3 separate regions of the Homo sapiens genome follow, and regions 1 and 3 are each reported to be linked to region 2. The links are microRNA targets in miRTarBase. Many come from high-throughput screens and were not tested one by one. Region 2 holds a microRNA gene; each other region holds the end of a gene's coding sequence.

Region 1 (3,351 bases), not on the chromosome of region 2:
TGACACACATATCCAAATCCAGTCTTTGTTAGTACTAAGTCTCTACTAAACAGAAAATAGCAGTATTTTGAGTTGTTTTACAATCATAAATGAATTAATGTTATTTCCTATTTATGTTGAAGGTTCGTGCAGACTAACAGTACACCATTTTTTAAAATCACTGCTTTGAATCGCCTTAACCAAAATCTCTTTCTTTTCTAGGCACAGGGTGGTGGTTTCCTATCCTCCTCAGAGTGAGGCAGAACTTGAACTTAAAGAAGGAGATATTGTGTTTGTTCATAAAAAACGAGAGGATGGCTGGTTCAAAGGCACATTACAACGTAATGGGAAAACTGGCCTTTTCCCAGGAAGCTTTGTGGAAAACATATGAGGAGACTGACACTGAAGAAGCTTAAAATCACTTCACACAACAAAGTAGCACAAAGCAGTTTAACAGAAAGAGCACATTTGTGGACTTCCAGATGGTCAGGAGATGAGCAAAGGATTGGTATGTGACTCTGATGCCCCAGCACAGTTACCCCAGCGAGCAGAATGAAGAAGATGTTTGTGTGGGTTTTGTTAGTCTGGATTCGGATGTATAAGGTGTGCCTTGTACTGTCTGATTTACTACACAGAGAAACTTTTTTTTTTTTTTAAGATATATGACTAAAATGGACAATTGTTTACAAGGCTTAACTAATTTATTTGCTTTTTTAAACTTGAACTTTTCGTATAATAGATACGTTCTTTGGATTATGATTTTAAGAAATTATTAATTTATGAAATGATAGGTAAGGAGAAGCTGGATTATCTCCTGTTGAGAGCAAGAGATTCGTTTTGACATAGAGTGAATGCATTTTCCCCTCTCCTCCTCCCTGCTACCATTATATTTTGGGGTTATGTTTTGCTTCTTTAAGATAGAAATCCCAGTTCTCTAATTTGGTTTTCTTCTTTGGGAAACCAAACATACAAATGAATCAGTATCAATTAGGGCCTGGGGTAGAGAGACAGAAACTTGAGAGAAGAGAAGTTAGTGATTCCCTCTCTTTCTAGTTTGGTAGGAATCACCCTGAAGACCTAGTCCTCAATTTAATTGTGTGGGTTTTTAATTTTCCTAGAATGAAGTGACTGAAACAATGAGAAAGAATACAGCACAACCCTTGAACAAAATGTATTTAGAAATATATTTAGTTTTATAGCAGAAGCAGCTCAATTGTTTGGTTGGAAAGTAGGGGAAATTGAAGTTGTAGTCACTGTCTGAGAATGGCTATGAAGCGTCATTTCACATTTTACCCCAACTGACCTGCATGCCCAGGACACAAGTAAAACATTTGTGAGATAGTGGTGGTAAGTGATGCACTCGTGTTAAGTCAAAGGCTATAAGAAACACTGTGAAAAGTTCATATTCATCCATTGTGATTCTTTCCCCACGTCTTGCATGTATTACTGGATTCCCACAGTAATATAGACTGTGCATGGTGTGTATATTTCATTGCGATTTCCTGTTAAGATGAGTTTGTACTCAGAATTGACCAATTCAGGAGGTGTAAAAATAAACAGTGTTCTCTTCTCTACCCCAAAGCCACTACTGACCAAGGTCTCTTCAGTGCACTCGCTCCCTCTCTGGCTAAGGCATGCATTAGCCACTACACAAGTCATTAGTGAAAGTGGTCTTTTATGTCCTCCCAGCAGACAGACATCAAGGATGAGTTAACCAGGAGACTACTCCTGTGACTGTGGAGCTCTGGAAGGCTTGGTGGGAGTGAATTTGCCCACACCTTACAATTGTGGCAGGATCCAGAAGAGCCTGTCTTTTTATATCCATTCCTTGATGTCATTGGCCTCTCCCACCGATTTCATTACGGTGCCACGCAGTCATGGATCTGGGTAGTCCGGAAAACAAAAGGAGGGAAGACAGCCTGGTAATGAATAAGATCCTTACCACAGTTTTCTCATGGGAAATACATAATAAACCCTTTCATCTTTTTTTTTTTCCTTTAAGAATTAAAACTGGGAAATAGAAACATGAACTGAAAAGTCTTGCAATGACAAGAGGTTTCATGGTCTTAAAAAGATACTTTATGTGGTTGAAGATGAAATCATTCCTAAATTAACCTTTTTTTTAAAAAAAAACAATGTATATTATGTTCCTGTGTGTTGAATTTAAAAAAAAAATACTTTACTTGGATATTCATGTAATATATAAAGGTTTGGTGAAATGAACTTTAGTTAGGAAAAAGCTGGCATCAGCTTTCATCTGTGTAAGTTGACACCAATGTGTCATAATATTCTTTATTTTGGGAAATTAGTGTATTTTATAAAAATTTTAAAAAGAAAAAAGACTACTACAGGTTAAGATAATTTTTTTACCTGTCTTTTCTCCATATTTTAAGCTATGTGATTGAAGTACCTCTGTTCATAGTTTCCTGGTATAAAGTTGGTTAAAATTTCATCTGTTAATAGATCATTAGGTAATATAATGTATGGGTTTTCTATTGGTTTTTTGCAGACAGTAGAGGGAGATTTTGTAACAAGGGCTTGTTACACAGTGATATGGTAATGATAAAATTGCGATTTATCACTCCTTTTCATGTTAATAATTTGAGGACTGGATAAAAGGTTTCAAGATTAAAATTTGATGTTCAAACCTTTGTATGTCCCTTGTGTCAGTCCTTAAAATTTTGCTTTTTAAAAAAACAAAACAAAACAAAAAACACGGGACACATTTGACCTAATTTGTACCTCACAAAAATTCTTTGCATACATCTCAAGCGGAAGATGTCTACAGGAATCAATTTGGTGATTATGACACATTTTACCTCTGCAACTAACAAACCTTGTTTATTTCTCCAAGAAGCTTAAAAAGAGTTTGTGGAGTCGCACGAGGTCATGTATGGCACTTGTGTTCCCCTCTTCCTCTTCCAGTTACTAAAATAATCTGGTGAGTGCTAGTTGTCTTAGCCATAGAAGGAAAAGCAGACCTATCAACCAATAGTATGATAACCCGTAAGTCTCAGCATGGCTTGGGGACAAAATCTTTAGATTCACCATGGTTTTAATTTCCCATGAAATGAAAGGCCCATGTAAGTCATGTTAAAAACTATTTTCTTATTAACTTTTGGCTACTGTCAAATGACTTATCAGAATTGAAAATCAGGAATTCTAGGTTGTATTGTAGCTTTTCCAAAAACTATCTCTGTAGCCACCTGGGCAAGTTGATTATTACTTAGTTTCCTCCTTTTGGTGTCCCATCTACCCCACTGGGTGAGGATGAGGAGCAAAGGAGATAATCTCACTGTTTTTGAAAAGTGCTATTTTAATGTGTGGCATTAAGTTTATCTCTGGTTTCAAATATTCATCTCACTCTCTTGG
Region 2 (3,351 bases):
ATGCTGCCAAAACCCTGGGTCCCTCCATGATCCCCCCCACCCAACCCCCACACCCACAGTTTCCCCCTTCCTACTGTCCCGGCCTCTGATGGTCACGAGCACCGCCTGACAGGCGCTGGGAAGTGCCATGCCCCTCAGGTGCCTTGTCCCCGACCCCCTTCCACTTCACAGATGAAGCTACAGGGATAACTTCTGGTAGATGCCCTGTTCACCTAATTAAGCCGATTGTGTAAAATCCTAGAGAACCCGGGAGGTGGAACCTTGTGCAAATGCAGGCCATTTTCACCTGCAAAAATGGCATTTGCATGTGGTTCGACCTGACAGTGAGCATGAATTGATTCCCTGTGGCATCCTTAGGAGTGACGTTCTTTTTAGCAATGCTGTGGGGAAGTTCATGTCACCAAAGACGCAGTCAGAAGCAGCTTTGGTTCTGGGAGGAGGCGATCACAGGGGATGTTGAGGAAGATACTTCCTTGAAATGTGGGTTGGCAAGTGGTACATTTGGTCATCTGAGGACTTGGACCTCTTTGATCTGGCCTGGGTCCCTCAGCCAGTAACAAGCTAAGGTGGATTTGAAGCCGGCTCTGTCTGCCAGAGCCTGTGCTTAAGGGCTGTTATCAGGGAGGGGCTCCCGCTTGCTGGGTGCAGGCAGGCTCTGTCCTGGAAGGCCACACATGACCTGGGAGGCAAGGTGACTGCGAATACCCATTTTACAGGCCAGGAAACAGGTGCCTTATGAGGGCTATGACTGAACCTGGGTCACCCAGCTGCCCAAGGCTCCCACCTGGAGTCTTCCCTGGGGAGAGGGGAGTTTGGGACCATGTCTTGGGTCTCTCTCAGATGGCCTTAGCCCCTGCTTGTGTCCCTCCACCTCCTGGGGCTGGTCACTGCCTCCCCTGGGTGTCTCTGTGAGCCTGCGTGCATTTGCCTGGGCCTGTTCTCTGTGGCTCCTCCCTCTCCAGCTCTCCCATCTGTGGGAGTGTCTCCTTGTCAGCATGGCTGGGTGGGGACCACCCACACCTCACTTCTCAGCCTGTTTTTACCTAGGTGAAACAGCAGCTTCTGCTGCGAGCATTGCCGTGCAGTGGGCGTGCAGGGGCTGGGGAGACGGGGGCGACCTGTGGGCTTTGGGAAAAAGCAGCTGTTCTTCCTTTGCTGTCCTCATTGGAGGTGATAGGTCCTGCGAGGCACCCTGGCTCCATTGGAGACAGCTGGGACCACCTTAATGGTCATCCCTCTAGGAGCCCTGGGGAGGCTGCTGTTATGAATGGGGAAGAGGAGGAGGAGGACACAGGGCTTAGTGGGAGCCAGGGAGGGTGGTGCTTGCCTCCCGGAGAACTAGAAGAATGGACTACCTGATGCCCACCTGTGGGGCTGGGGCAGGGTCGCTGACCTCTGCTGCTGCTGCTGCTTTGCTGTGTGATCTCAGATAAGTCCCTCTCCCTCTCTGGCCTTCTTTGATTCCTCTCCCACCTAAAGGAAGGTTCATCTACACTCTTTTTTCATCTAACAAGCCTAGAGCATGGTGTCCATGGAGACAGAGGCTGAGGTCTGTATCGGTTACTATGGGGGGCCTCAGAGCCTGGCGTGCCGTAGGTGTGCTGTGGAGACATACACTCCTTGGTTGGAGAATTTTTAATAGTAACAGTCATGCCCAAAAGGCTCCCACTATGGGACAGGCCTTGAAATTCTGACCACTTTACACCATGGAAATGCATTTACTCTTCACCCATGAGGGAGGTGCTGTGATTTATAATTCATAGATGGGGAAACTGAGGCACAGAGCCGTTAACTTCTTGCCCACGGTCCAAGAGGTCACAGCTGGGATTTGAACCCCAGCGGTTCTGGCCCCGTGTTATTGACCACTCCATGAGGCTGCCTAAAACTTTATTAGCCACCTACTGTGTACAGACACTGGGCCACAGCAATAAGCACAGAACAGGAGTAGGGGCAGGGGAGGAGTCTGCAAGCTTCTGGGAGGAGGGGATCTTGGGAGTGATCCCAACAGCTGAGCTCCCTGAATCCCTGTCCCAGCAGGTGCATCCCGGCCCCACGCCCCAGGCACCCCTGCAGGCCGAGTCCGCCCGGAACTCAAGACCAAGCAGCAGATCCTGAAGCAGCGGCGCCGGGCCCAGAAGCTGCACTTCCTGCAGCGTGGTGGCCTCAAGCAGCTCTCTGCCCGCAACCGCCGCCGCGTCCAGGAGCTGCAGCAGGGCGCCTTCGGCCGGGGTGCCCGCTCCAAGAAGGGCAAGATGCGGAAGAGGATGTGAGGACCAGGACCCAGCCCCGTGGCTCCTTGATTGGCCTTAGGGTGGGCATCAGCAGACGTTCCCGTGCACCACTGTGTGCCTGGCCCTGTGCTGGGCACTGGGGGCACTCCCTGCAGGAGCCATCATCTGTGAAAAGGAGCACTGTATGGCCACAGAAGGGCAGCAGCTGCGTCAGCCTAAGACAGAGACATTTGAACAGGGCCTTGAAGGGTGTGCAGGAGTTCGCCAGCAAAGCCAGGCAGGCCAAGACTTGAGTTGGCAACTCAGCTGCTGCTGCTTCCATGTGTTCTGGGTTCAGAGGTCATGGCTGCACCGGTCAGAGCCCTGAGTGCCTCAGGGTTTGGCAATGGAATTTTTAATGTAATAAATCTTTATTGAGCACTGCTGGTGGCCAGGAGTGCGGTCTACTTGGGGAACTGGAATGGAGAGACCCAGGTACTAAAATCCCAGCTAACGTGGCAGAGGAGTTGCGGGTCTCCTGAGGGTGAGTTCTGCTGCCTTGTCCATTTAGCGATGAGGAAAGTGAAGCTCAGAGCACAAACCAGGTGCCAGAGGCGGGAGTTGGTCCCCCTTCCTCCCACTGGACATGGTTGCAGCTGGGAGTGGGCTGGGGGAGGGGAACAGGATGCCCAGCCCAGGGGGCAAGGACACAGCTGCTCCCCTCTGGCTATGAAGAGGTTAACGCGGCCCCTCCACACCTGGAGGTCAGAACCTGGCCTGTCCTCTGTCTTCTTGCCACCCACCCCCTGTTTGAGGTTCTGAGAAGGTCAAGGGCAGCCCCAGCAGCTGGATTCTCAGGCTGGGCCCCTCACCTGGCAGAGTCCATAGTGGAGGGGGCCTTGGTGATCTCTCATCTAGCATGGACCCTGTTCTGAGACCTGACAAAGAGTTTTTTTTCATGCCCCAACCACCCTGGCAGGGAGGGCCTGGTCTGATCTCATTTTAGAGGCAGTTGCCCCACACATAGCCCCTTGACCTTCCCATCACCTCCTCATCAGGGCCTGCATTTATGGAGTGCTTGCTATGTGCCCCTCATGGCAGGCCCACAGCACTCTGAACAGGCACAGCCCTCCCATCTTCC
Region 3 (3,000 bases), not on the chromosome of region 2:
ATTGTGCAAAAGCATTTAAATCAAAATACCCTATTTGTTATTTTTTTAAAAAGTAAAGTGGGGATGACAAGTAAAGTGGAAATTTATCCCAGAAGAGTGGGGATTACTGTGACTATCTGAAGTTTTTATACTTGAATTTTTCTGCTCAGATTTTAAAAGGACTGGAGGAGCTTGAGTTTCCTCAGACTTCACAATACATGGACATATTTAATGATACCTCTGTCCACTGGTTCCCTGTGCAAAAGCTAGAACAGCTCTCCATAGATATTTGGGAGTTTCGGGAAGAACCAGATTATCAGGACTGTGAGGACCTTGAAATCATCAGGAACAAGAGAGAAGATCCTTCTGCTACTGACTGAACTCGTTGTGAGGTACTCAGTGTTGGCTGAGGTAGAAGCTGCCACCAGAGACTAAAGGGAAGGCTGCTATGGAGGAACTACAGAGAACTCCTTTGCCAGGAAAGAACATCAACTTGGCTGTCCTGTTTTGAGGACGATACCCCACATGAGGACTTGGTATAAAGATTCCTGCCCTACGTGGCATTGTCCCATTTTACATCCTTCCCTCATGACCTGGCCTGATGTGGAGTAGCTCCTGAGTAAAGAAGTTACCCTTTTGAAGGTGATCTAAAAATACTGTTTATTTACAGTACATCCCTCTTAGGGGCAAGTCTCTGACTGGTTCTGGACCTGCCACAGTTCACTTGGCCATGTCGATCAGGCTCTGCAGTGAGGTGGGCACCCACGTCTTCTCGCCCTGGACAAAGACCACTCCCCGGTCGATGTAGATCACAATGCGGCCAAAGGTGTAGAGCTGCTTCCCTTCGTGTCGCTTCCCAATGACGGGCATGAAGACAATGTTGTGCTCCTCAGCCTTGGTCTCAATGAGGTCCTTAAAGTTCATGGGCACAGAGCTAGCGGCCACGCCAATGCCCCTCTGAGCCATGTTCTCAGCCTCCCGCCTCTCCTGCATGGCCTCGTACTGGAAGTCCTTCCTCCGCTCCGTGTGGGTGAGATAGGCAATGTTCTCCCGTGCTCCTGGCTGCATGTAGGCACCTAAGATACAGGAGGACAGGGCGGTGAGGAGAGGTGTTTCCAGGTGTATGGAAGTTGACACTGTGGCTTGGCCCAGGTCTTGGGTGTGCCAGAGTGCTTGTGACTCACTGAAGGGCAGCTCTGCCTCAAAGATACAACTTTGGAGGAAGTTTAGACGACTGGCCAGTATCACATAAAAACTGTTCAGAAGGTTCCTGGCTAGTATCTAGTAACCAGATTATTAATATTCAACATTTTAAAATGAAGTATCTGCAAGGGATTTCTTCCTTCAGAGCTGGAAACATTAACAGAGAGTCCTCAGCCACTCTTCTGTTCCCACCTTGCTCTGTAGAGTTTCCATTTCCCACCACCAAAGAGGCAGCTTTTAGTACCTTGAAAACATAGGGCCCATACTGGCTTTATTTTTAACCTACCCACACAGGGCCCCCATCCTGAAAGAAGTTCACATATATTTAGGGAGCTGAAATGAGTGTTTAAAGGATAATACCAAGACCATAAATGCTAAGTGCTAATTGAGGGGTATATTCAGGGAACAGTTTTGGAAACATGAGGCCAAGGGTAGCTAAGGAAGAGTTTTTAGAAAAAACTTGATAATTACAGAAGCAGAGAAGTATATTTGCCTTATTACTTAATCTCTGTTTTCACAGAATAGGCTATTTTTCTTTTTTTTTTTTTGAGACCGAGTCTCGCTCTTGTCACCTAGGCTGGAGTGCAGTGCTTGCAATCTCGGCTCACTACAACCTCTGCCTCCCAGGTTTAAGCGATTCTTCTGCCTCAGCCTCCTAAGTAGCTGGCATTACAGGCATGTGCCACCGCGCCCGGCTAATTTTTGCATTTTTAGTAGAGACGGGGTTTCACCATGTTGGTCAGGCTGGTCTCGAACTCCTGACCTCGTGATCTACCCGCCTCGGCCTCCCAAAGTGCTAGGATTACAGGCGTGAGCCACCGTGCCTGGCCTAGGCTATTAAATAACAAGAATTAAAGACTCAGGAAATAGAAATTCCAGTTCTAACTGCCACCCTTTAACTATGTGACCTTGAACAGGCTCTCAGCCTCGCTGGGCTTATCTGTAAAACACAGACTAGACGATCCCATTTCAATGCTGCGAATCGGCTAATGAGCAACACTGGAGCACAGGACTGGTTGAAATAGGCTCCCAAATGTAGAAACATAAATATACTCTCACTTACTTATGATCTAGGCAGAATGACTTACCTAGAACTTGGGAACAGATATAGTACACGAACAGTGAACTGCCTGTTTTTGACAACACAGACACCACCTATTGAAGGCTATACACAAGCATGAACTCACTCTCCCTTTTAGCCTATAAAGTAGATCTTACTGTTTAACAGGTAAAATGGGGCTGATTAAGGCTGAGCAATCACCAAGTGTCAGACCGCGTGCCAAACTCCACACTGTAAGATGCGTCACCTAAGCAGCATGCTCAGGCATGAATGAGCCTTAAAAGGCCACACAGCACAGTGGTTAAGAGGGCGGGGCCTGGGGTTAGACTGACATCATCTGAATCCAGCTTAAGTCAGTCTCCACTCAGGGAAGATGCCCCTCTCAGTCATGGTAGACCTGGGCAGTGGGTGCCAGCTGACCATGTACCCCAGTCAGCAGGGTGAGAGTCTGTTGCTATGTGCAAAAGTGTGACCTAAGGTTTAGGCTGCCTACAGGAACCAGAAAACTCTGATTCTGTGTCATTTACATGTGTAAAATCTGAAACTTGGGGCCAGGACATCCAAAATGGGAATCCTCACTTACCAACGTTGGAGGACACCGCCCGGTTCATGATATCAAGTGCCTCATTAAATTTGTCCTTGACAGATGGATGTGCCAGCACTTGGTCTGAGAACATCGACTTCCAACCCAGGTACCACTTGGTGATCTCCTCATAATTTGGGCTGTTACTGAGCCAAGAGCACAGCACCTGCCAAAA

Evidence for each region. Region 2 holds the annotated microRNA hsa-miR-7106-5p (UGGGAGGAGGGGAUCUUGGG, at 1,975-1,994, shown strand). A microRNA usually pairs through its seed, bases 2 to 8, with sites in the 3' UTR of a target mRNA and lowers its output. Matches are read on the target gene's strand: a 7mer-m8 pairs with bases 2 to 8, a 7mer-A1 pairs with bases 2 to 7 and ends in A, and an 8mer does both.
Region 1: miRTarBase lists SH3RF1 as a target of hsa-miR-7106-5p. Seed matches in the 3' UTR shown: 7mer-m8 at 849-855 and 8mer at 1,660-1,667.
Region 3: miRTarBase lists SRRD as a target of hsa-miR-7106-5p. Seed matches in the 3' UTR shown: 7mer-A1 at 1,802-1,808 and 7mer-A1 at 1,967-1,973.

Annotation. Positions count from the first base shown.
Region 1 is chr4:169,093,538-169,096,888 of GRCh38, reverse strand. SH3RF1 (SH3 domain containing ring finger 1) reads left to right here. Exons shown (of 12, transcript NM_020870.4): 12 at 202-2,630. The coding sequence ends at 370. Among named protein-coding and RNA genes, the nearest start is that of CBR4-DT, 85 kb to the right of the region's middle.
Region 2 is chr12:113,157,796-113,161,146 of GRCh38, reverse strand. MIR7106 (microRNA 7106) reads left to right here and starts at 1,970; the gene lies at 1,970-2,034. It overlaps CFAP73 (cilia and flagella associated protein 73), which reads right to left. Exons shown (of 8, transcript NM_001144872.3): 8 at 1,871-2,446. DDX54 (DEAD-box helicase 54) reads left to right here. Exons shown (of 20, transcript NM_024072.4): 20 at 2,038-3,351. The coding sequence ends at 2,270.
Region 3 is chr22:26,491,314-26,494,313 of GRCh38, forward strand. It overlaps SRRD (SRR1 domain containing), which reads left to right. Exons shown (of 7, transcript NM_001013694.3): 7 at 150-3,000. The coding sequence ends at 359. It overlaps TFIP11 (tuftelin interacting protein 11), which reads right to left. Exons shown (of 15, transcript NM_012143.4): 14 at 2,826-2,991; 15 at 1-1,055. The coding sequence ends at 700. Among named protein-coding and RNA genes, the nearest start is that of SRRD, 8.9 kb to the left of the region's middle. RefSeq lists an enhancer at 1,975-3,000.